7 linked regions of the Homo sapiens genome follow. The protein of the gene in region 5 purifies or fractionates together with the protein of the main gene of each other region. This does not show direct contact. Each region holds a gene or a part of one and is shown on either strand. Other genes may lie near its edges.

Region 1 (3,500 bases), about 47 Mb from region 5:
AGTTTTGTATTTTATTTTATTTTATTTATTTATTTATTTATTTATTTATTTATTTTGAGACAGAGTCTCACTCTGTTGCCCAGGCTGGAGTGCAGTGGCATGTTCTTGGCTCACTGCAACCTCTGCTTCCTGGGTTCAAACGATTCTCCTGCCTCAGCCTCCTGAGTAGCTGGGATTACAGGCGCGTGCCACCAAGCCCAGCTAATTTTTTGTATTTTTACTAGAGACGGGGTTTCACCATGTTGGTCAGGCTGGTCTCAAACTCCTGACCTGGTGATCCGCCCACCTCAAACTTGTAAAGTGCTGGGATTACAGGCGTGAGCCACCACGCCTGGCCTAATTTTAGTATTTTTAGTAGATACCAGGTTTTACCAGGTTGGCCAGGCTGGTCTGAAACTCCTGGCCTCAAGTGATCCACCCACATTGGCCTCCCAAAGTGCTGGGATTACAGGCATGAGCCACCGCACCCGGCCCAAATTAATTATTAAAGTATATATAGTACCAATGATTTTTAAATCACTTAATATATATTTTTCTAAGTTCTGTCCTATAGGCCTAAAAGCGGAGAGCATATTTACTAGAAGAACTGTTCAGAGCTCTGGACTAGGAAAGGCAAAACTCAAACTAGTGTCATTTTCGCAAGCAGGAACTACGTGAAAGGGAAGCTGAAATGGAATTTTTTTTTTTTTGAGACGGAGTTTTGCTCTTGTTGCCCAGGCTGGAGTGCAATGGCGTGATCTTGGCTGATCTCGGCTCACAGCAACCTCCACCTCCCGGGTTCAAGTGATTCTCCTGCCTCAGCTTCCTGAGTAGCTGGAATTACAGACGCCCGCTACCACGCCCAGCTAATTTTTGTGTTTTTAGTAGAGACGGAGTTTCACCATGTTGGTCAGGCTGGTCTCGAACTCCTGATCTCAGGTGATCCATCCACCTCGACCTCCCAAAGTTCCTGGGATTACAGGCGTGAGCCAGTGCGCCCGGACTGGAATATAATTTTTAAATTGAGGGTTGGGGAGAGGAGAGAGAGGTGATCTTATGAACATAGAAGAGGCCTGAGAGAATTAAATTGCAAAGAGAAAACAAGCCTGACTACCCCAAGGTGAGAGGCCCAAGGAAATCAGTTTTGCAGTCAGGAAAGCCCAAGCATTCTATCTTGAATGAAGATATAAAGTTACTAGATGTGAAAAGGGGGGAGAGGGCAGTTTTATGCATTTTTTGACATATTTAAAAGAAAAAATTTTAAGAAAACATGCTGCACAAATACACTATCCATGATAGTAATGATGGTATCTTAATTGTCAAGTAAAACCCCATAGACCAGAAGCCTGATGTTAAACCAGGAAGAGAATGAACTCCTCTGATACTTTCCCCAAAACTTAAAATCCTTCACATTTCTTTTTTTGGCGATGGAGTCTTACCCTGTTACCCAGGCTGGAGTACAGTGGTGTGATCTCTGCTCACTGCAACCTCCACCTCCTGGGTTCAAGTGATCCTCCCGCCTCAGCCTCCCAAGTAGCTGAGAGTACATACAGGCATGCGCCAACACGCCTGGCTAATTTTTGTATTTTTAGTAGAGACGGGTTTTCACCATGTTGGCCAGGCTGGTCTTGAACTCCTGACCTCAGGTGATCTGCCTGCCTCGGCCTCCCAAAGTGCTGGGATCACAGGCATGAGCCACCACGCCTGGCCAATCCTTCACATTTCTTTGGAGGGAATGCTAAAATAATGTTTTTTGTTTCCTCTGCACTCCAAATGAGACAACTGAGAATAGAAATATTATAATTTTAACAGTATTTTAAAACCCTTTTCATTAAAATACTAGATTCACCAACTAAGCTTTAAGAAGTACTCTTAGCTGGGCATGTGTGCATGTAGTCCCAGCTAACAGGGCGGCTGAGGCAGGAGGATTGTGTGAGACCAGTTTAAGGCTGCAGTAAGTTATGATCACACCACTGCACTCCAGTCTGGGCAACAGAGGGAGACTTCATCTCTGAAAAAATGCAGGCAGGTAGATGGCTTGAGACCAGGAGTTTGAGACCAGCATGGACAACATAGTGGGACCATGTCTCTGCAAAAAATTAAAAAATTAGCCAGGCAGCTGGGTGTGGTGTCTCATGCCTGTAATCCCAGCACTTTCGGAGTCCGAGGTGGGCAGATCACAAGGTCAAAAGTTCGAAATCAGCCTGGCCAGCATGGCGAAACCCCATTTCTACTAAAAATCCAAAAATTAGCCATGCATGGTGGTGTGGCCCTGTAATCCCAGCTACTCAGGAGGCTGAGACAGGAGAATCGCTTGAACTGGGGAGACAGAAGTCGCAGTGAGCCGAGATTGCGCCACTGCACTCCAGCCTGGGTGACAGAGGGAGACTCTGTCTCAAAAAATAAATAAAAATAAGCCGGGCAAGGTGGCATGCACCTGTAGTCCCAGCTACTTGTGAGGCTGAGGTGGGAAGATCCACTGCGCCCAGGACGTTGAGGCTGCAGTAAGCCGTGATGGTGCCACTACACTTCAGCCTGGGTGACAGAAAGACCCTGTCTCAAAAAAAAAATAAAATCCTTTACACCTATAACAAAAATTAAGTTTAGCATTTTCAAAATTTTAATATAACACTAACAACAGTCTCTTGTTTGTTTATTTATTTATTTTTTGAGACAGTGTCTCACTCTGTCACCCAGGCTGGAGTGCAGTGGCGTGATCTCAGTTCAATGCAGCCTCGACCTCCCAGCTCAAGCGATCCTCCCACTTCAGCCACCCGAGTAACTGGGACTACAGGCATGTGCCACCATGCCCAGTTAATTTTTGTATTTTTTGTAGAGACAGGGTTTTGCCATGTTGCCCACTAGTCTCAAACTCCTGAGCTCAAGTGATCTGCCCTGCCTCAACTGGGATTACAGGTGTGCACCACCGCCCAGGCCAAACAGTCCCTTATTAATTAATTCCTCCAAAATAAACATCAGAAAAACAGCCATTAGTCTTTTTTTGAATTATTTTTTATTTTATTTTGTATATTTTTTGAGACGGAGTCTCACTCTATTGCCCAGGCTGGAGTGCAGTGGCGCAATCTCGGCTCACTGCAACCTCTGCCTCCCGGGTACACGAGATTCTCCTGCCTCAGCCTCCTGAGTAGCTGGGATTACAGGCGCCCGCCACAACACCAGGCTAATTTTTTGTATTTTTAATAGAGATGGGCTTTCACCGTGTTATCCAAGATTGTCTCGAACTCCTGACCTCATGATTCGCCCGCCTCGGTCTCCCAAAGGGCTGGGATTACAGGCCTGAGCCACCGCGCCCAGCCTACAAAAACAGCCATTAGTCTTAATTCTATCATATTATATTTCAAAACTATCCACAACTTTCACTTTGTAAATACATCTTTCCTCCATCCCCTGCAAATTATCAGTAATCTCTATAGCTCTCACAATAGTGAGCATTTTCTTTAGGGCCAGAGCACAGAGAACACACTAATTTTTTTTTTTTTGGAGATGGAGTTTTCCTCTGT
Region 2 (3,500 bases), on a different chromosome or scaffold from region 5:
GCCAAGACAGAAAACCACTGTTAATGTGAACTTCTCTAGGGAAAGATAGTATCTTACCTAGATCTGAAGTCACCTTCCCACTGGCCTCTCTATCTTGTCCCTCCATCTCCCCAACCTCAACACCCAGCCCAGTGGTTGGCACGTGAAAGACATTCAGTAAATGTTTGTTAAGCAGCAAATGCAAATAAAGCCATAGCAAGGACTCAAGGATTTTAGAGGTTCAAAGGATAAAGAAAGCACATCTGGCCAGGTGCAGTAGCTCACGCCTGTGATCCCAGCACTTCGGGAGGCCGAGGCGGGCAGCTCACCTGAGGTCAGGAGTTCGAGACCAGCCTGACCAACATGGAGAAACCCCATCTCTACTAAAAATACAAAATTAGCTGGGTATGGTGGTGCATGCCTGTAATCCCAGCTACTCGGCAGGCTGAGGCAGGAGAATAACTCGAACCTGGGAGGCAGAAGTTGCAGTGAGCCAAGATCATGCCATTGCACTCCAGCCTGGGCAACCAGAGTGAAACTCCGTCTCAAAAAAAAAAAAAAAAAACACATCCGACTGGAGAAACTAGAAAGTGGAAAGACTGCACAGGAATGGGAATCCGAGGTATGGGTAACATCTTAAGTGCTCAAGATGGGAGAGGCAGAGGGCAAAGTGTATGCTTCAGCAATTGCAATTGCGAGGATGGATACGGTGAGAGGTAGAGGTGGGTGGGTGGTGATGACACTGCTGAGGAAAAAAGCTTACGACTAACTCCCAGGACTTTGGGAGGCCGAGGCAGGCAGATAATGAGGTCAGGAGATCAAGACCATCCTGGCTAACATGGTGAAACCCAGTCTCTAATAAAACAACAACAACAACAAAAATTAGCCAGGCGTGGTGGCACACACCTGTAAATCCCAGCTACTTGGGAGGCTGAGGCAGGAGAATCGCTTGAACCTGGGTGGGGGACGGAGGCTGCAGTGAGCCGAGATCGTGCCACTTCACTCCAGCCTAGGTGAAAGAGTAAAACTCGGTCTCAAAAACAACAACAACCACCACCACCACCAGCACTAAGCGCACAGGAGGAGGAAAACCTGGATTCATTATCCAACAAAGAGGCTGAAGCAGAAAAAAGATGTGGTACTTGGCCTAAAAGAGTGGTGGCAAGAAAACCAGAAAGAACACATGTGGCACACTCTGAAGATCAATTCTACAGACCTTGGCCTACCAGCAACAAAAATGGTGATGTTAATTTTAAAAAGAAATTCATAATGAGAATATGGTTGTGGAACGAGTTCAGCATTCATTTGTTCAACATTTACCAAATACCTACTGTATACTGGGCACTGTCTTTGCGTGTGTGTGTGTGTGTGTGTGTGTGTGTGTGTGTGACGGAGTTTCGCTCTTGTCGCCCAGGCTGGAGTGCAATGGCACGATCTTGGCTCACTGCAACCTCTGCCTCCTGGGTTCAAAAATTCTCCTGCCTCACCCTCCCAAGTAGCTGGGATTATAGGCATGTGCCACCATACCCAGCTAATTTTTTGTATTTTTAGTAGAGAAGGGATTTCTCCATGTTGGTCAGGGATTTCTCCATGTTGGTCTTGAACTCCCGACCTCAGGTGATCCACCCGCCTTGGCCTCCCAAAGTGCTGAGGTTACAGGCATGAGCCACCATGCTGGGCACTGTCTTAAGTTACAGGGATACCAGGAGTCTACACAGACAAAGGTCTTCTTCAGGAAGGTTACATTCTAGGGGGGAAGGAAGGACAGTAAGTTGGCAAAAAAACAAAAACAAAAACATGTAACTCAAGATAGTGATAAATCCTAAGAAGATAAAGCAAGACAGTGGTACATATGGATTAGGCGATGCTGGGTATTTCAGGGTAGGCCCCTAAGATCTAAGACGGTCACAAATGCTTTGTTACTCTCCCCACGGAAAGATGGAGTGTATTTCCCCCTCTCCTGAATCTGGGCTGGCCCTGTGACTACTGAACCAAAATCCTTTGGTTGAAGTGGGGCTATGATGGTTCTAGGCCTAGCCTTCAAGAGGGTCGCCTGCTTCTACTTCACTTTGGAACATGTGATGGTTAAGTGTCAACTTGACTGGACTAAGGAAAACCTAGAGAACTGCAAAGCATTCCTTCTGATGTGTCTGAAGGGGTTTCCAGGGAAGACTGGTTTGTGAGTCAGCTGACTGAGTGTGGAAGATCCACCCTCTGTAGGGGCCAGCACCATTCAGTCAGCTGGGGACCCTAATACAACAAAAAAGAGAAAAGGAATTTCTTTTCTCTCCTGGAGCAGGGACACCCTTCTTCTCCTGTCACTGGACATCAGAACTCCAGGCTCTCCAGGCTTTGGAATCCCAGACTTAAACCAGCAGCCCCTAGGTTCTCAGGCCTTCAGCCTCAGACTGAAAATTACACCATAGGCTTCCCTGGTTTTAAGGCTTTCACACCTGGACTGAGCCAGGCTACTGGCCTTCCAGGATCTCCAGCCTGTAGACAGCCTATCATGGTACTTCTCGGCACCCATAATCATATGAGCTAATTCCCCTAATAAATCCCCTCTCATCCATCCATCCTCCCACCCTCACTGTCTCTCTGGAGAATCCTAAGACAGAACATATGTTTGTGGGAACACGCCCCTCTTGGAAGCCAGCTGCCACCTTGTAAGAAGGCCAAGTCACACGAAGAGGCTGGGTGCAGGGGCACACTGAGCTCCCAGCCTGCAGCCAATATCAATGGCCAGCCATGTGGGTGAGCCATCTTGGTGGTTCCAGTCCAACCTCTGGTGACTGACTTGGTGACCCAGCCAACATCATGTAGAATAAAAGAACTATCCAGCTGAGCCCCATCACACCCCATAAAACCACAACATCACCAGCAGTAATAAAAGTGTTATTTACAGCCATTACACTTGGCCAGGCATGGTGGCTCACACCTGTAATCCCAGCACTTTGGGAGGCTGAGGCAGGCGGATCACAAGGTCAGGAGATCGAGACCATCCCGGCTAACACAGTGAAACCCCGTCTCTACTAAAAATACAAAAAATTAGCCGGGCATGGTGGCACGCGCCTGTAGTCCCAGCTACTCGGGAGGCTGAGGCAGAAGAATCACTTGAACCTGGGAGGCGGAAGTTGCAGTGAGGCGAGATCACACCACTGCACTCCAGCCTGGGTGACACAGCGAGACTCCGTCTCAAAAAAAAAAAAAGCATTACACTTTAGAGTGGTTTGTTACATGCAAGCAGATAACCACAAGAACATTTAAGGAGAAAAATAAGATAATCTTAGGAAGATTTGGAGAACATCCAGAGAGAAGACACAGCAAGTATAGAAGCCCTGAGTGGAGAAGAAGCTGAAGCAGTCAAGGAACAGAAAGGAGGCCAGAACAGCTGGGTCTTGGGAATGAGCTGGGAGGCAGGGAGGCGGGGAGGCGGGGAGGCGGGGAGGGAGTGGTAGACCACAGTAAAGAGTGTGGTTTTTACTCTATGTGTAACAAGAAGCCACTTGAGGCTTTTAAAT
Region 3 (3,500 bases), on a different chromosome or scaffold from region 5:
AGGTGTATTGTTTTAAAATGTAATGCAAAAATTTCAATGCAGAGGTCAATACTATTTTAATGTTCATACTTTTAAAAGGATGGCTTTCTTTATTCATGTATTACTTCTATAATTAAGATACAAACAAAATAAGGTGATAGTAGGCACTATTAATATAAGAACATAATTTTAAAAGTTTTTCTCTAGTGTAAGAAACATCATCTCAATAGTGACAGACTGGACTAGATTAGATTTCATAAGATTCTTTCAAAGGTGGTAACTATGAAAGTAATTTTTAAAATGTCAAATGATAAATCACAAGGAATAAGACAAATTCCTAGGTCTACTATATTTCAAGTTCTCTACTATAAATGACAAAGGTTAGATTAGGCAACTGCTAAGATTCATTTAGCTCTACATGTCAATACCTACCTTCAACAGATTTAAACAGAATAAAACTTGAGTTACTATCTTTATTACGTTCAGTCATCAGCCTCCCAAAACAAATATAATTTTTCCTTACCTAAAAAGCATAAAAACTGTCGCAGGCATCAGGAATATTTCATTGCAAGCAATGAATTTCAGAATATTTTGTTGATTAGCACTTAATTTGTCCAAGACAGATCTCAGCAGAGGTAAACTATTTGAGCCCCTTGCCTAAAACAAAAGAAAACCAACATTAGAAATAAGTGAAGCATTTCTGATAACAATATTTTCTTTCTGTAGGTAAACAGCCTATCCAACAGGCAATACAACCAAATATACTACTTTGGAAATGATGGTACGAAGTTCACAAACTATTTAAGGACAAATATAGTATATTTTCCTGCTTTTTTACATTTTTAGACTTAATATAAAAAACAACTTTAGTAAAAGTACTTTTCATTCTTAGCTGCTTTTTCTCAAGAATGATTATTTAACAAAAAATAGTGGTTATTTCTCTCTAACCACAACAAAATCTGACTATCCAGTAATACAGTTAAAATATCTGTGACTCCTTTCTTAGCTAATGTTAGAATTATACAGCAGTGTAATTACTGCTGTGACCAAAGAATTATAGGGATAAAGAAAAAGGCCAATACAAAGCATAAATCTGGCTATTTTAATTCAAATTTCTGTAAATGTGCTTGGTAAATGTGCCTGGATATTTTAATTCAAATTTCAGTATATGCTGTAAATGGCCTGGTGCCAAGTTAGGTTTAATGCTCCAACCTAGCAATAAGAAAGAATTTCAGGAAAGCAGCAGTTCTGAAAATTAGTGTACAAGAGATTCATTCAGTACACTCAACTTATCAGGTATGCCAGAATTAAACACTGACAGAACAAGAGATCTGACAACTCAACAAACTTTAGAGACACAGGTTTCAAAAAAACTGATCTATTTCAAACTTGAAAAATTCCCCTGGAGACTGGGGGGTGATTTTAAGTGCAATCCTTTATCTATAAAATGTTCTAGTTTGTGAAACTTCAACAATAAACACTTTTAAACTTAAAACTTTCAAATCACTAAATAATTCATAACAAGTTTGTAAGGTATAGAGGGACTTTTTGTGACAAATACCAAAATGTCTTAGAACTCAAATTCATGTCAATGATCTGTAATTCAGAAGTCAGACAAAGAGCAGTTTTACTTACGTCAAGGACCTTTTTCGTATATGTGGCAGCATGAAGCAAAGAGAATAACAAGACTGGGAAGATACTCACTAAAGAAAACAATTAAGGAAAACATTTAAAAGTCATCAAGTATTCTGCAAAACAGACTATGTATTATGTCCAAATATACAGATGTGAAACATCTGCTAAAATGAGTTCAGTGGAATGGCTTGTTTTACTGATACACTTTAAGCCAAATCAAATTTTGTTCACTATAAAGAAGAAAGTAAACTATTTCATTTTCTAAAATTCACAGTTCTTTTTTTTTTTTGAGACAAAGTCTCACTCTTCTCCCCCAGGCTGGAGTGCAATGGCGTAATCTTGGCTCACTGCAACCTCCACCTCCTGGGTTCAAGTGATTCTCCTGCCTCAGCCTCCCGAGTAGCTGGGATTATAGGCGCCTGCCACCACGCCCAGCTAATTTTTGTATTTTTAGTAGAGATGGGTTTTCACCATGTTGGCCAGGCTGGTCTCGAACTCCTTACCACAGGTGATATGCCCACCTCGGCCTCCCAAAGTGCTGGGATTACAGGTGTGAGTCACTGCGCCCGGCCAATTCACAGTTCTTTTCATGACAAAAATTAATAGTGAAAAAAAGGTTTTTCCTTCATTTCTACTGGGTAACAATGTAAACACTTGCTAAATTAAACTGAAATCTAGGCCACCCCAAAGGGTTGTAAGTATAGCTTCTAACCCTACAACGGCTTTCTTGGTCACTCTAACTTAGCCTTCAAACACAGTAGTTTTACAGTGCTTTCACAATCTCAAACGCTGAGGAAAGAGTCTAAGGTAACAGTTTAAAGAGTAATTCCCAAATTTTTAGTCCCAAAGACTAAAGATCTTTTATTACTTCTTTCCTACAAGGACTCCATTATTTTGAGATACTATACCTAACAAGTTGTCACAGTTATGCTCTCAATTTGTAAAAATTAACAAGGCAGTATGTATTTTGCTTTGTATATAGTCAATTGAAACTCTCATCAGCTTAATTACAGACATAAGGAAAGAATCCTTTTGAGTCCAACTGTTTGGCTTTATGCCATGGATAAACATACATTTTTCATTCAACTTTTTGAAAAATGGAAATTGTTCAAAAGACCCCATTCTCCACCCCAATTTCTGCCAGGTTGATTAAAAAAAAAAAATTGTCAAGTAGTTCCACAAAATGATATAGACTGTTAGTCAATCACAAATGGCAAAAATACTTGTCCTAAAAATATTACCAGTTCCTAAGAAATGAACCATTGTATTTTTCTATACTAACTGAAGGCCTAATATGACAGGAAATAGTGATTGCTGTAACATAATCTGAGTATCAAATTCATTATAACCATAACTCATTTAGGAATTCAAGGGTCCCAGTTTCCAATTGACAAGCAAGACACCAACCTATATCCAAGTATTAGAAGAACCCTAACTCCCTAATATAGTTCTCCAAATTAATATCCTGACCAACTCATTCCCACCTCTAACAAGAATTAAGAAAAATGTCCATTTCCTAAGTAGAGATCATATATGTATATAAAAAGTTTTAAATTTTTTAATGAATCATAGACTACTTTGAAACTGATGGAAGCTACAACCCTCTCCAAAAGTCACTATAAAACTCTGTCGATCCTTAAAGAATTCAATTTAAACTTTGACACATATCCAGACTGAATTCAATAAAAGGGGCAGTGTCAGGTAGTGAAAATAGAGCCCTGAATTGGGAGTCAAGATACCTGAGTTCCACTCCTGACTCTGTCACTAACCTAATTTTCCTAGGTCAAGTTTCATGCTCTGGCAAATGAGTATGCAGAGATCAAAGCTAGAAACTGCCAATGAGTCTTTTATGTCTAACATTCTATAGTTCACAAATCCTTGGTAAG
Region 4 (3,500 bases), on a different chromosome or scaffold from region 5:
TCCAGCATAAAGAATTGTCTACACTGATTTTTAAATAACTGCCCCTTGCCCACACCTCTGCTGTCTGAAGGAGTAAGCGGTTGTGTGTGTCAATCAGAAACTTTACAGGACTTGGTGAGCTAGGCCCCGTCACGGTCACTTGGATATTTGTCCTTTCTGTATTCATTAGGGCTGCAAATTCAGACAGAGCCTTTAAAGCCACAGTGGTATCCTGTTGAGGGAAGAAAAACATTTGTACATATAAGTATATATCAAGGTCTTCAAAGAGTAAATTTAGTAGTATTTTGTTGCTGGATATTCATACACCTTCCTTCAGAGTGGAATGCTCCCTGATTCATATTTGAATGTCCTTGGCCTAGAGTACAGGAGAGGCTCAGAAAATGTTTGCTGAAATGTTTTATAGTTTTTAGTGTATAGATCTTATTGATTTTTGTCAGATTAATCCCTAAACAGTTCACATGTTATGCTATTTTGATTTGCATTTCCATTGCTTATATATAGATACAATGGATTTCTGTACAATGATTTTTTTATACCACAATGTTACTAAATTCACTTGTTAATCCTAGTAGCATTTCTGTAGATCCCACTGAATTTTGCTCATAAATGATCATATTATCAGTAAATTAAAAGTTTCAGTTTTTCCTTTCCAAAAAGAAGAAAAGAAAATAGAAAATATTTGCTATATGGAACTGAACATCTACTCTTATATCAGTTACCACAGATGAAAAGTGGCAGATGGGGAACTGATTTATTCCATATAAATATCAGACATGAAATTCATAGTAATGAGGAGAAAAAAATTAAAATTAATCAATTTAGCCTTTTGCTTAAGTTACTAAACTTTGAAACTGCCAAGTAATTTTATGAAATCAAGGAAAAAATGCAACCACATACTTTTAAAAATATTTTTTATATATAACATATGATTTATATAATATATACTATATATTATATATAAAATATATATAATAAATAAATCTATATTATATATTATAGTTTAAAGGGAAAAAACTATCATCTCTCACCTGAGTAGATGCAAAACCACCCAAGCTATTTCTTTGCCTGCTTAGCCACCTCATAATTGGGATTCCCTCAGAAGTCTGAAATTGTAAGAAGTGTGAGAGCAGTGCATAGGCTGCAACTTCAATATCCAGGGAGCGTGGCTGCCAGGAGTCAGAAAGTTTGGACTCTGATGACACCCAGAATTGCATGCCACCTGCAAGAGAAAAGTAATAACATTCTGATCAATTATCCAGAAAAATTACATTTTATACCATTAAATATTCCTACTCTGGTCCAAGTTGTACTTAACTAGCATAAAAAATATATACTTGTATACATGTATTTATTTATGCCAGACATGTATTTATTTATCACAAACACACACACACATACATATGTATACATGTGCCTATATGTTGCTTTTTTAAACTATTACAAGTTAAGTATATCTTATCCAAAAAGCTTGGGGCCAGAAGTGTGTCCAATTTCTGTTTTGTTTGAATTTTTGGAATATTTACAGCATACATACATTCCAAAATCTGAAATGCTCAAAAATCTGAAACTTTTTGAGCACTGACATGATACTCAAAGGAAATGCTCATTGGAGCATTTTGGATTTCAGATTTTTGGATTAGGGATGCTCAACCTATATACTTGTAAATTTTCATCCTTTTCCCATTGCCTACATTTGAGGATGTTTTGATGAAAATAGTTTTCCTATGAGAAATTCCCTATATTTGGCTCAAGACTAAATAGCTATAAATAAAAGGAAAAAATAATATATTTCAGAAGATAATGCACGTTACTTATCTGACCAGGCCATCCCCAAAATATTTTAAGACACATTGAAAAGAATCCTATTCTGGGAATCTGCCATTAACTAGCTCTAATATTCTGGACTCTCCCATTTTCATTATCTGAAGGTTGGTGTTAACAGTTTGAGGTTCAAGCCCCCAGGAAAAAAAATTAGGATCCCCAGCTAACTCAACAACCTTCCTAGAGATAATTCTGCTCTAGTCCCCAGAGGACCATCCTACTTGGTGCCCTCTCTCAAATATTACTATTTAGATGATGACTACACTTAGGTGGAATATTAAATAACTACCACTTAGCCAAGCAGACAAGAAGAAAAAATGTCAAAGACTGCTTCAGCCTCTAAGCAATAATCTTCTAGTCCCCAGCTTTGGAATAGGTAACAAGGATTCAATCTAAGTTACTGTTAATACAATATTTTTTACAGTCTCAGAAGCCTCTAAACACTTTCTACAATTATCCCTTCTTGAATTAACAGAAATTTGAATCACTGGACATTATCTTATTTCTGCCCACCCACTTCCATCTCTCTCTTTCTTACACACACACACACACACACACACACACACACACACACACCTGGATCCCTGTCCACTTTGTATATAAAATACACATAATCCACTTACTAGCAGCATTTTTTGGTATTCACATTTCTTTTAATTAGCATTTTAGTTCCTATTTTTGAGCATTTGCTATGCAGCAGCATTGCACATTATCTCATTTAATCCTCACAGCCACTCTAAAATAGGTGCCATTTCCACTTTACAGTTGGGAAAACTGAACCTCATAAAGGTAAGTTGCAGAACCAGGATTTAACCTGTCTCTCCAGAACCCAAGGTCTTAGCAAACTACAAGGCTGCCAAACCAGAAATGGTATCAGACACTCAAAGGGTAACTGACATAGGGCATCACATATCTAAAATAAAGAGACATCTGAGCCCTGAAATTCTGTTAAAAAAACCCTGGGGAGACCAGAAGCATTGTGGCCATGTCAGGCCCATCCTGATCTCATTATGTGTTTTACTTTTCACCAAAAGATGCAGATGTAATCAATTTCAAACCTGGCTAAAAATTTTTCTCATGTAAGTTATATATTTCATAAAGCATAACAACCTCAAGTGGGCCCAGCACATTACCTTCTTGTTCTGCTCTCCAAGTCAGCATATTCAAAGCTTCCTTCGCTTTAGGACTCCCCACTGATGACAATGCATAAGTTATAAGGGCTAGAGTATAATTGTCTGAAATTCCTCTACTGAATTCAGACTCCAAAAAATGGATAGACTCTTGCACATCAATGTTAGGCTTGGAAGAAAAAAAGTATGTTTTTTACTATTCAGAGTAACCCATTACCACATACTGAAACAAAAAGTACTTTGAAACATGCATTTAAAAAATAAGTTCAGTGTCTATGAAGTACCTGACCTTGTACTAGGCAATGAAAATCAACCATGATCATTGACATTTAAAGATTTGCCATGCATTTTGAAAATAATACTGTTTTTCAGTTTTTATAAGTAAACAGGTGTCATTCCCTAGAAGAAAAAAGTAGAGCTTTTGCCAGTGTTTCTCCCACTCAGTATCACAGACTCAGATAAGAACAGCAAACTGCTTGAGAAATATATTTCTTATATTTGATCTCTGGTAGTGCGGCCCTAAGTTCAGGAAAAGTTTAGCTTCTACAT
Region 5 (3,500 bases):
AAAAATCAGCCAGGCTTGGTGGTGCGTGCCTGTAGTCCCACCTACTTGGGAAGTTGAGGTGAGAGGATTGCTTGAGCTCAGGAGGTCGAGGCTGCAGTGAGCCAAGACGGCATCACAGCACTCCAGCCTGGATGACAGAGTAAGACCTATCTCTAAAAAAACAACAACAAAAAATACAATGAGGAACCGATAGAAAACTGCAGCTAATTATCATACAATTGGATCTGGAGCTTTAAAAAAAAAAAGTCTGCTTAAATAACGTTAGTGTTTCTTTTTAATTAACCAATCTGCAATTTTCCCTCATCTGACAGGTTAGTCAACCTGTCAACAATTTTCCAGAGGAGGGGATCTTGCTTTCATGTGTGACCTGGTGTTTCCTGAGTCTATTCTGCATTCCAGGGATCTGTTAATTCCCTTAATTCTCCAATCAAAAATACCCCCATTCAAAACCAACCATCACCACCACCTCTATTCAAACATAAGAATTCAAACATAACACATTCTACAACTCGCAAATACAACTTCTAGATGACCATTTTGCATTACTCATCCTACTACTCTACACTTAGAGAAGCAAACACCTGTCGGAAATTTACCTTTGTAGCATATGTAGGTTTATCGATGGCTTCATCTCCTATGAAAAAGTCAAGGTCATCAACTCCCCTCAACACTCTCCTTTGAGCTTGGTCAACTACCTTTGCTGACTCTCTGATGGCAATACCTTAAAAAAAACACACACACACAGATTTCTATCACTATCCATATCTATTTAAATGATCAAAAGGGATAATATCCTTATATACACACAAGTAAATTTTCATTGTTAGGGCTCCATGTGGGGTGAAGGGTGCTCACAGAAAAGACAATGTCAATGAGTACATAAAATAATACAGAAGCAGGCTATTCTATTCTGGTATGATTTTCAGAATGGGACAAAGGAAATGAGCTGCTCTACTTTTATACTGACAGAAGGTCCATTGCAAAATTTCTCAGTTTTATCTGGAAAAATCCCTCAAGATAGTAAGTGAAATGCCTATACATCAGTAGGTTCCAAATTTAAAATACAATATAGAAGGGGACAAAATTCTGTACAATACAGAAAAGGAGAGTAAACTGAAAAATAATGTCTATAATAAGACTCTACATCACATAGCCTTAAAATGTACTTTTAGTCTTGTTACAGGAAGAAAAAAAACCGTTAAAATTTATCCCATTAAAAGGATAAATTAGAATGTTATTGGTTAATATCTGTAGCCAAAAAAAGTACCATAATCAAATAACTATTACATAAAAATTCCAAATATTAATGGCTTTATAATTCATTATTTTAATAAGATCTTAATCTTAAATATTTGGGAATATACTTAGCAGTAAATAATCATATCAATTCACTCCAGACAGCTAATGAAATGTGGAGGGCATCACAAAGATTCCATTTTCCATTGAAATTTCTAACTCCTGCTCACACTCTTGAGCTCTCCCATGAGCTATTTTCATTCATCAGGTCTCGACATCAACACCATCTCCTCACTTGAAGGCTTCCTTGACAACCTGCAGTTCTGCACACGTGTTTGATGCTTCCACTGGCCCTTTTATACCTGCATTAAGGCATTTTTCTGGATGAATTACAATTGTTTAAGATCAGTCTACCAAACTATAGATTCCTTGACATCAGATAACCCCCATCTTTAACTGTCTCTCCAGTGGGAGGCTCTGAAGTCAATAACTAATAATAATAATTAAAGTTTACATTTATTGAACACTCTGCTAAGTGTTTCCTTTTGCACACTATTTTATTACATCCTCACAATAGCTTATGAGACAGGTACTATTATCTGCATTTCACAGAAAGGGAAGCTTAACAATCTATCAAGGTCACACAGCTTCTAAGAGACAGACAGGATTTGCACCTAAGCAGGCCACTGGCTATCAGAACAGACATTAGAGAAATATTTGCTAAATTAACATTTTACTCCACTAAAATATTTATTGTGGGTTTGAAAAATGGTCAAACTATACCTAAATAATTCTAACATAAACCTAATTCCATAAATATACTAATGGCTTCTCACTGTCCTTAATGTATTTCTGATGAAAGTACGACTCTGTAGCTATACAAATGTAAATGCTAGATAAAATTTCTCTGAATCAAAATCTTTGTGACTTACTACCCAAAGTGAGGTACAGAGTCAGTACAGTCCTTATCAAAATACCAATGGCATCCTTCACAGAAACAGAAAAAATAATCCTAAGTTCACATGGAACCACAAGAGACCCCAAACAGTCAAGGGAATCTTAAGCAAAAAGAAGAAAGCTGGAGGGATCGCACTACCTGACTTCAAAGTACACTATAAAGCTACAGTAATCAAAACAGCATGGTACTGGTATAAAAACAGACATATAAACCAGTGGAACAAAGAGCCCAGAAATGAATCCATGTATTTACACTCAACTGATTTTACACAACGGGCAAAGTGTAAATGTTACTGGAGAAACTGGATATCCACATGCAGAAGAATGAAAATGAATGCTTATCTCTCAACCATATACAAAAATTAACTCAAAATGGATTAAAGACTTACTTCAATGTAAGACCTGAAACTGTGAAACTATTAGAAGAAAACGGTAAAATGCTTTATGACATTGGTCTGGGCAAGGATTTTTTTGGACAAGACCTCAAGAGCACAGGTAACAAAAATAGATAACTGGGATTACATCAAACTAAAAATCTTCTGCACAGCAAAGAAAACAATCAACGGAGTGAAGAGACAATCTATAGAATGGGAGAAACTATTTGCAAACTATCTACCTGACAAAAGATTAATAATCAAAATATATAAAGAACTCAAACAGCAATAAAAAAACAAATAACCCAAGTGAAAAATGAGCAAGAGACCTGAATGGACATTTCTCAAAAGAAGACATACAAATGGCCAACAGGTATATGAAAAAATGCTCAACATCACTAATCATTGGGGAAATGCAAATCAAACCCACAATATCAATCAACTCACCCCACTGAGAATGGCAATTATCAAAAAAGCAAAAGATAGTAAGTGTTGGTGATGATGTGACAAAAAGAGAACCTTTATACACTATAGGTGGGAATGCAAATCAGTAGAGCCATTATGGAAAACAGTATAGAGGCTCCTCAAACAATTAAAAATAGAACTACCATACGATCCAACAATCCCACTACTGGGCATATATCCAAAGGAAATGAAATCAGTATGTTAAAGAGCTATCTGCACTCCCATGTTTACTGTAGCACTATTCACAATAACCAAGATCTGGAATCAACCTACGTGTCCATTAACGGGTGAACAGATAAAGAAAATGTGGCTTTATAAACAGTGGAATACTATTCAGCCATTTAAAAAAAAAAGGAAATTCTGCCATCTGCCCACAACATGGATGAACCTCGAGGGCACTATGTTAAGTAAAATAAGCCAGGCACAGAAAGACAAATATCACATGGTCTCATTCATATGCAGGATCTT
Region 6 (4,242 bases), on a different chromosome or scaffold from region 5:
GCCAAGGAAACACCTTCACCCTCAGGGCCTCTGGGGGTCACCATGCTCCCTTTAGGCCCACACTTAATTTCTTTATACTAAGGCCATGAAACTTGAGTCCCAGTTCAGTTTCAACCACCAAACCACTGTGTGGGGTCCATCTCTCTAGACCTTCGTGTATTTGCTGTTTAAAAGTAATGAAGAAAGGGGAGGGAAGGCTGAACAATAATTAACATTTGTAAAGAACAGTTTGGTTCAGTACCTTATCTCATTGATGCTCACTCTATGCCCATTTTACAGATGGGAAAAAGAAGACTTAGAGAGGTTAAGTGAACTGCCCAAGTTTACCCTGCTGGTAAGCCAGGACTTTCTTGGCAAATCCTGTGATCCTTCAACTTGACCATATTAGAAGATTCTAGTATTGGTGAAATCTAAAACTTGTAGGGCCCATCTTAAAATAGCAAAGTAGTTTTAACTAGGCACTGTCAGATGCATCTGGGCTTTGAATTATTACTTGGGCAGGTTCCTTGAACTTTGGTGTTCTCATCCAGAATAAAAGACAGTGGTGCCAGGGTAGGAGCTATGAGCACAGAGAAAGTAGCCCTTGAATGGGGCCACAGAGGGATGCTGCAGGGGACTGTAGTTTTGGATGAGGAGCTGAACTAGAAGCTTCCAAGTGCTCTTCCAAGACAAAGATTCTATGATTCCCTAACTGGGATCTTTCCACTGTTTCAGGTGATAATTCTGAGCTCAGATCCTGTGCACAGAACCTAATGCAGTCTTCGTGTCAGAGCTAGAAGAGACCTTGGGCGACCACCCAATCAACTTTTCATGGTTCAGTTGTGGAAACTGATGTCCACAGATAAATGTCTTGCTATCATGTCAGATAGTTCTCCAGCCACGACTGAGGCCTGAGTCCCCCTAGGGCAGAGGAAATCTCCCATTTCTAAAAGAAAGCCCCGCACTGTTCATAGCAGTCACAACCTCTCTCACATCCCTGAATCAGGATCCAACGACTTGCCAATCAACAAATGTTGCTGGAGAGTTTACCACAAACAAGTCTCTGTGCTAGGCCCTGAGAACACAAGCTGTCCGGCAACTTCCTGCTCCCTAAAGTCACAGTCTATGGTGGAGGTGCAAACAAGCGATCCTGTTGGGGCTTCAGGGTACTTCCTCCTGTGTGCTTTGCACGTAGTAGGTGCTCAGCGAACGGAAACGGGGAGACTAGTTATCACTCTCCAGGCAAGCCCGCAAAGAGGCCTCAGGTGAAAAGAGAAAGGAGGATTTTTTTTTCCGGCCCTGGCTCTGCGCACCGCTCCCCAGCGCGCCAGGCGGGGCTGCGTCCGGAGCATCCTTCCCTCCGCCTCTGTCCTGGTCCCCGCTCAGCGGCCGCTAGGAGCGCGAAGGGAGGGGCGCGGGGGCGCGCACGCAGGGTGTCGGGGGCGCGCCGGCCGCCCGGGGACGCGCACGGGCTGGTCTCTGCCCTAATGCGGCGGCTGGCGGCGAGAGGCGCTGCAGGGGACGCGGGGGAAGTGGCGGCGCCGGCAGCGGACAGCTCGGACAGCGCCCAGGGCCGGAGCCCGAGCCCTTGGAGGTAGGCGAGCGCGAACACCGGAGAGATGGGGGTAGAGAGTCATGGAAACCCACCTAGCGACACCCCCTTGTTCCCGCCCTCGTCTGTCTCCATCCCCTGACCTGCCCCCTCCCCCTCCGTCCACATTCCCATCCCTTCCCCTCTCCACACTGTCACCTGCCCCGAATCCATCCGATTCTGTTCGTATGCCCACCCCGTCCCCGTCCAGCTCCCAGCCCCCTGCCCACCCCAACACCCTTTCTATCTCGTTGGCCGCGTCCCCTCCCCCTTCCCGCATCCTCAACCCTTTCCCTTTCCTCTCTGTCCCCGCCTCATCCGTGAGCCCTGCCTGCCCTTGTACTTCTGTTTACCTCGACACCCCACTTTGGATGACCCCATGCCTCCTGTATTTCCTACCGCACACATCAGCCCCTTCTTGCCTCCCCTATTCTCTTCCCCATCTCATGCCCCTACCAGTTGGTGTCCTGTCTCTCCATTTGCTCCCTCAGTTTCTGTCCTCCCCTGGTTCCCCCTTGCACGCCCTGTCCCAGCCCCTTCCCAGCTGCCTCTTGGTGTCCTCCTGCATCACAGTCCCTCTCAAGAACCCCGCCTTCTCCCCCCTTTGGCTGTTAGCTGGCCTGACACCCGTCACCTTCCCTAGCTGCCCTTCCTGGTGCTGTGTGGAGCCATACAGCCTGTACCCAGCCCTCCCTCAGTGGCCTCTGGACCCCCCTTCCCTGGGTGGGGATCTTGGTTGTGGAATATAACCCCTTTCTGCATGTTCGATCCTATTTGTGGCTTGGGGAAGAATGCTGGGGGTTAGTAGGCCTCTCTCTTATGTTCCTCTCCAGCCATGCAGCCACTCTACTCCTCTAGCTGTTCAGGTTTGTTTCCTAGATGGATTGGGGGAGGGGGTGCTAGGCATTGGGAAACTAGGATGGGGAAGGGGCAGGGTCCAGGGGAATGACTGAGCAGACTCCTCCTGGGGCTTGGCCTGAGCCCTGATGTAAAGGCCTGGATGAGGAGCCCTGCTGGAGGGCTGGATAATTTTGGATTTTAGAAAAGATTCTGCTTCAGCCTCCAAGTCAGCACTTTGGCATCTGGAGCTGTCATGAGTGTGGCCCATGGGCTGGGCCAAGAGTGGGCAGAGTGCTGAATCACCTAGAATCTGGTCCCCATGGCAGCCCCCATCCTGTCCTGAGCCAGGTTCTGCTCCTGACTCCTTCCTTGGCATTTTGGCATGGGGTGTGTGTGTGTGTGTGTGTGTGTGTGTGTGTGTGTGTGTTGAGCAGAGATGCCTCATCCCTCAGTGTGGGGGAGAGGACAACAATACCCCTTTTCTGCCTGCCTGTGTCCCTGGCATGAGGGCCTAGTGCGTCTCATCTACCCTTGGAAATGTGCTGGGCCCTGCTGGGCCTCAGTCAAATCTCCAGCAAGGCAAGGGCAAGCCACAGGGCTTTGAGACCTGGTTGGACAGGAGTTTAATTGTTTGTGTGGAGCCAAAGCCAGCCTCAGAGCCCACAGAACTTAAAGCAATAGGAGAATAGCCCAGGGAAAATGTGTGTGAAGAGTGGAAGCCTCTGGGGATAGGGGCCATACCAGCTGTGAGGTGGGGGCAGTGGAGGAAGGCAGGCAGAGATCTATCCTCCTTCTGGTTTGGGGATGATTGGATGTGGTGGAATTGCATTGCAGGAAGAATTGAAGGAGATGGGGGCCTGCTACGCAGCTAATACATTTCACCTTTTGTCTTGACTGAGCTGGCACTTCGGAGGGAGTAATTTCTCCCCTTGTCTTTGGATTCAACTGAAGGGGTGTGTTGTGTGTGTTGTGATGTGTGTGTGTGTTGTGATGTGTGTGTGTGTTGTGATGTGTGTGTGTGTTGTGTGATGTGTGTATAGAGAGAGAGAGAGAGAGAGAATTATGCCAGTAAGGAAAGAGACTCACTCCCACTTAGCCCCAGAAATTGTGGTTGCCACTGTGGAACAGGGAATGGCAGCCCGATTCCTGTCTTAGGGGCTTAGACGAAACCCAGAGGCTTAAATTGAGGCGTTAAGAGCGAATTGCAGACAGACTCTGTCCCTTCTCTGCAAGGCTTTCACTTTAGGAATCCAAGTGACTGGACTCCTTCAGCTCCTGTGCAGTAAACTCTGAATGGGCCTCAGGCAGTGCCTGGCAAGGGGATGTGCTGCTGGGGGCACTGGCTGCACCTTGCTTTGTCACCCTTCTCCGTCGCCTCTCCAGCGTGAGAGGGGGTGGGGCTGGAAGCTTTCCCTGGCATCAGTGCCTAAGGGCTGCCAGCTTTTCCTGGTACAGGGAGAAAGCATTACCTGCAGCCGTTGTTGAGAGCTGATTGGATTAAGGTCCTGATGTTGAAATGCTTGACTGGAGCTCAGGTGAAGTGGGGGATTCTAATAACAGTGTACATATTTCCCAGTTTTGTGCAATGAATTTCACCCCTCACCCCCTTGTTTGGCATCAGAAAGAGTACGGAGAAATAAACCAAGGCACACGGAGGGAGAAGCCAGCTCCCCAGAGAGCTGGAGCAAGACCTTCCAATTGTACCTAGCCAGCTCCCTGTGGGCTGAACTGGCTGCGCTCACAAGGGCTGGTTCTTTTAAGGCACACATTGAAGAGGTGGCTGAGAGCTGGGGGTGGGGTTCTGGCTTTGCATTTCTGGGGTGGGTGGGCCA
Region 7 (3,500 bases), on a different chromosome or scaffold from region 5:
CCAAAGTACTTTCTGCCATGCATGTATTCTTCAGAGTATCTTGGTAATATTCTACAGAAAGAGAGATGCTGGAAGATCTACCGTAGGTTACTATGCAGCGGTTGGGCTGAGAGAATTTGAGAAAGTCAGAAAGCGCAGATGACTTAAGACTGGAGAATCTTTGAGCAAGATCAAATTGTGAGTGAGTGTATATGTGTGCTTGGTGTGGAAGTGCAGTGTATTGGAGATTGAAGACAGTGGCTGAGTTTGTATAATACAGCAGAAATCGATGTGATTAAAATTAAGATGTGGTAAGACAGTCTTTGACTAGAGTGACTAAGGTTTTCCATGAACTAGCTGTGTGTGAGCCTACATTTCCAAGTCACTGGTTTATTGTTTTGTATTATACATTCCTTTCCTCTTTTCAATAAGCATAGAAAATCCAAAGTAAGATATATTAACTTACGTTTTTATAAACCAGCTGCATCAAATGCCTTTGCTATAATGACTACAAAATGAATGTCTTTGCTACTAGTCTGATAACCGTCTCAGCACCACAGTATCTAGAGTAATCTGTTTTGCCTGTTGCCTTGACCCCTGAGTACCCCAGTTTAGTACTATTTTTACCCTGAGGGCTTTTTTCTAATGTAGAAAAACAGGAAATTTGGACTAAGACCTTGATTTATAAAATAGAATGCCCCAGATTCCATATTTATTAATCATAAGCAGGAGTATAAAATGTTTCCTGTGCTGGACCTTTTATGCAACATTGTCAAACAAGTTGCCAAGTAAGATATAAAATGTAAGTGAAAACTTATTCTGAGTTTTCCTTGATTAACTTTCCATTCCAACCAGAGAATACTCAGTTTAAACTGATAAGCTACTAACTAAAGCAATCTTGTCTCCACTGGCTCTGCTAAAATGATTACAGATGAATCTTTCTATGAAAGCTTGCAGACAGCCTGCAGATTGAGAATGTCTATGGCCTGAAGTCAGAGAGAAAGATATAATACTACATAATTTCTTCAAGACATGGGGCCAAAGACCCGCAGTTTCAAGATTCTCTTTTAGTTATTACAGAAATAGATTTAAAAAGTTCAGGATTAAAGTGACATGGGAAATCTTGAAATTTTAGTTTCCTCTAAGATAAAACAAAAAACCTGCAAAGAGCAATTGCATCATAGCTAAAGAAAAGAGAGATATGGCTTCTTTTATTTAGAAAGTTAAACTGTCTTGTGGATGTAGATACATGCCAATTTGATGCTGGTACATGCCAATTAGAGACTGTGCCAAGGCCACTAATATGTCACAGAAGCTGCCAGATGGCCATAAGAGTCCAATTACAAACCAGGCCAGTGTTCAGCTCATGTTCCTAAGGCAAAGGCCGGGATATGATTAGCAGATCCCTTAAACTATACTGCATTATCTCTACCAGTATCAAGGTTTTTGGGAAGCGTATTTAGAAACCTGTTACAATCTATTAACGTATGGAGGTGTTCTCGAGGAATATGTTCAGTGTACTGGTTGCATTTGTGCTAGGTTTACAAAGCCAATTAATTAAAACATGACATAAATTAAATCTAGAAATGAGCTCAATTGTAAGAATATGGACTCTTTAATTCTGGGAGAAAAAATAAAAATGTAATTCTGAATCATGCACAGGAAAACGAAACATGCTTGATGAACTGCTTTAGCCATGATATTGCTTCAGTTAAATGATAGGTTCAAATTCTTACATCATCCTAAAGGAAATGCAAAATAATCTTTGGTTTTGGAGACTAGTTACTTTAGCTGGCTGTGGTAGGGTGCCAATGAAGAGGCCAATTTTATGGGGTCAATTTCCATAGAGGTGAGATGACTTTATGGAGAAATCCAAATCCACAGTATTGAAAATTCTTACATTTAGTTAACTGCTTTATGAATGTTGCTGTTTACCCTCAGGGAGACTAGGTAGGAAGATGTGAAAGAATCCGGCCAAGCCACTAAGCATTTCTGGAAACCAATTCCAACACTGTGTGACTTTGACAGTTGATAAGTAATGTCATTTCTTTATATGAAATGTAGCAATTTTAAATATGTAGTCTGAAGAATCACACTCCCCTAAAAAAATGTTGCTTTTAAGGGAAGCAACTAGAGCATATTTTCAATTCCTTAAAGTATCAAAAATTACTTTAAGAATGATTCTCCTGGTTACACATGGCAAATGGACCTCAAAATACCAGTAAACTGAAAATAAAGGGCATTGAAAAGGACCTATTGAGCAGGATCTATATAAAAACCAAGAAACCAGGAGAGAGAACAACAGTAATGGAGAGATTTCAACAACTTTTTGGAAAATGGAAAGTGGCTGGAGCTGGATAGAAGTGACTTGGCACAGAGAGAAAGCTAGCAGCTGGGTTTCAGAAGGGGTGGAAGCTAACAATAAGTAAGTCTTTGACCTGCTCGACTCTGAGAAGGTCCAGTACTTTGGAGGCACAAAGTACTACAGAGAGTAAAGGGTTAAAAAAGAAGAGATTGGCTGAAAGTTTATATTTAGAATGATTAGCTACTCCTGTCCCCCACTAGGTGATATCTCCTACCCTGGTAGCCAAGCAACTATCCCATTACTGCTTCCTTTCACCTTGCCTGTCCTGCCAGCCGACTGGAGATCTATTCTCTGAAGACATCAAGAGGATCAAGGCTGGGCCAGGGGAGAAAGGGCAGAGGCTGAGGCTTGCCTCCATTTCCTGTCCCTATTCCATGCTTACATATTGCAGGCAGGAGACTACTGAATTCCTCTTTGGAAAAATGGAATGGCCTAAAAGAAATACCATCAGAGAGTGACGTTTGGGAGTTCCATAGTAAAAAATCCAGCTTGTTATCCTATCACCCTACCATGAATACACTAATTGACAAACCCAACTCATCACTGTTTCAGTGTATCTCTCTTCAATAAGAATGGATAGCTAAGGTTCCTCAGACATCTAAGGAAAGTCTCCAACACAAGAGCAAATAAATAACAAAAAGAAAAATGAACCTAGAGAAAAGTGGGATGGTACCTCAAAATAATGACAATTCATATCCTCAGAGAGATAAGGGAAGATTTTGCAACCATGAAACAAGAACAAGATGCTGTAAAAATGGGAAAAACAGTTAAGCATTAAAACAAATAAGAAATGTGGAATAAAAATAAACGAGGAAGGCTTGAAGATAAAGTAGAGGCAATGTCCCAGAAAGAGATGAAAAATGAAAAGAAAAAAGTGGTGAGAAAATCAGAGAATCAGCCCAAGAGATTCAATTTTTCAATAAATGATATTATAGAAAAAGAGATCACATAAAACAGTAGGGGGCTTGGCATGGTGTCTCATGTCTGTAACCCTAGTGCTTTGTGGGGCCAAGGTGGGAGGACTGCTTGAGGCCAGGAGTTTGAGACCAGCCCTGGTTACATAGTGAGACCCTGTCTCAACAACAACAACAACAACAAAAAACAGCCAGGCGTGGTGGCTCACACCTGTAATCCCAGCACTTTGGGAGGCCGAGGC

The links.
Region 1: the proteins of ACTR3B (region 5) and PUS7 purify together in Homo sapiens (affinity purification with mass spectrometry; one large-scale study listed by BioGRID and IntAct). This does not show direct contact.
Region 2: the proteins of ACTR3B (region 5) and CLCC1 fractionate together in Homo sapiens (co-fractionation; one large-scale study listed by BioGRID). This does not show direct contact.
Region 3: the proteins of ACTR3B (region 5) and TMEM33 purify together in Homo sapiens (co-immunoprecipitation; one large-scale study listed by IntAct). This does not show direct contact.
Region 4: the proteins of ACTR3B (region 5) and CD109 fractionate together in Homo sapiens (co-fractionation; one large-scale study listed by BioGRID). This does not show direct contact.
Region 6: the proteins of ACTR3B (region 5) and NFASC fractionate together in Homo sapiens (co-fractionation; one large-scale study listed by BioGRID). This does not show direct contact.
Region 7: the proteins of ACTR3B (region 5) and CMSS1 purify together in Homo sapiens (affinity purification with mass spectrometry; one large-scale study listed by BioGRID and IntAct). This does not show direct contact.

What each region holds. Positions count from the first base shown.
Region 1 is NC_000007.14:105,515,772-105,519,271, forward strand, and holds part of PUS7 (pseudouridylate synthase 7 homolog), read right to left. Parts: intron 1-3,500. UniProt on the Homo sapiens protein: Pseudouridylate synthase that catalyzes pseudouridylation of RNAs.
Region 2 is NC_000001.11:108,953,485-108,956,984, forward strand, and holds part of CLCC1 (chloride channel CLIC-like protein 1 isoform 1 precursor), read right to left. Parts: intron 1-3,500. UniProt on the Homo sapiens protein: Anion-selective channel with Ca(2+)-dependent and voltage-independent gating. Permeable to small monovalent anions with selectivity for bromide > chloride > nitrate > fluoride.
Region 3 is NC_000004.12:41,941,929-41,945,428, reverse strand, and holds part of TMEM33 (transmembrane protein 33), read right to left. Parts: intron 1,683-3,500; coding exon 1,615-1,682; intron 637-1,614; coding exon 503-636; intron 1-502. UniProt on the Homo sapiens protein: Acts as a regulator of the tubular endoplasmic reticulum (ER) network by modulating intracellular calcium homeostasis. Mechanistically, stimulates PKD2 calcium-dependent activity. Suppresses the RTN3/4-induced formation of the ER tubules.
Region 4 is NC_000006.12:73,807,703-73,811,202, reverse strand, and holds part of CD109 (CD109 antigen isoform 1 preproprotein), read right to left. Parts: intron 3,121-3,500; coding exon 2,955-3,120; intron 1,220-2,954; coding exon 1,029-1,219; intron 212-1,028; coding exon 56-211; intron 1-55. UniProt on the Homo sapiens protein: Modulates negatively TGFB1 signaling in keratinocytes.
Region 5 is NC_000007.14:152,797,752-152,801,251, reverse strand, and holds part of ACTR3B (actin-related protein 3B), read right to left. Parts: intron 722-3,500; coding exon 597-721; intron 1-596. UniProt on the Homo sapiens protein: Plays a role in the organization of the actin cytoskeleton.
Region 6 is NC_000001.11:204,827,210-204,831,451, forward strand, and holds the start of NFASC (neurofascin isoform 1 precursor), read left to right. Parts: upstream 1-1,442; 5' UTR 1,443-1,466; coding exon of another isoform or gene 1,467-1,573; intron 1,574-4,242. UniProt on the Homo sapiens protein: Cell adhesion, ankyrin-binding protein which may be involved in neurite extension, axonal guidance, synaptogenesis, myelination and neuron-glial cell interactions.
Region 7 is NC_000003.12:100,156,862-100,160,361, reverse strand, and holds part of CMSS1 (protein CMSS1), read right to left. Parts: intron 178-3,500; exon of another isoform or gene 1-177.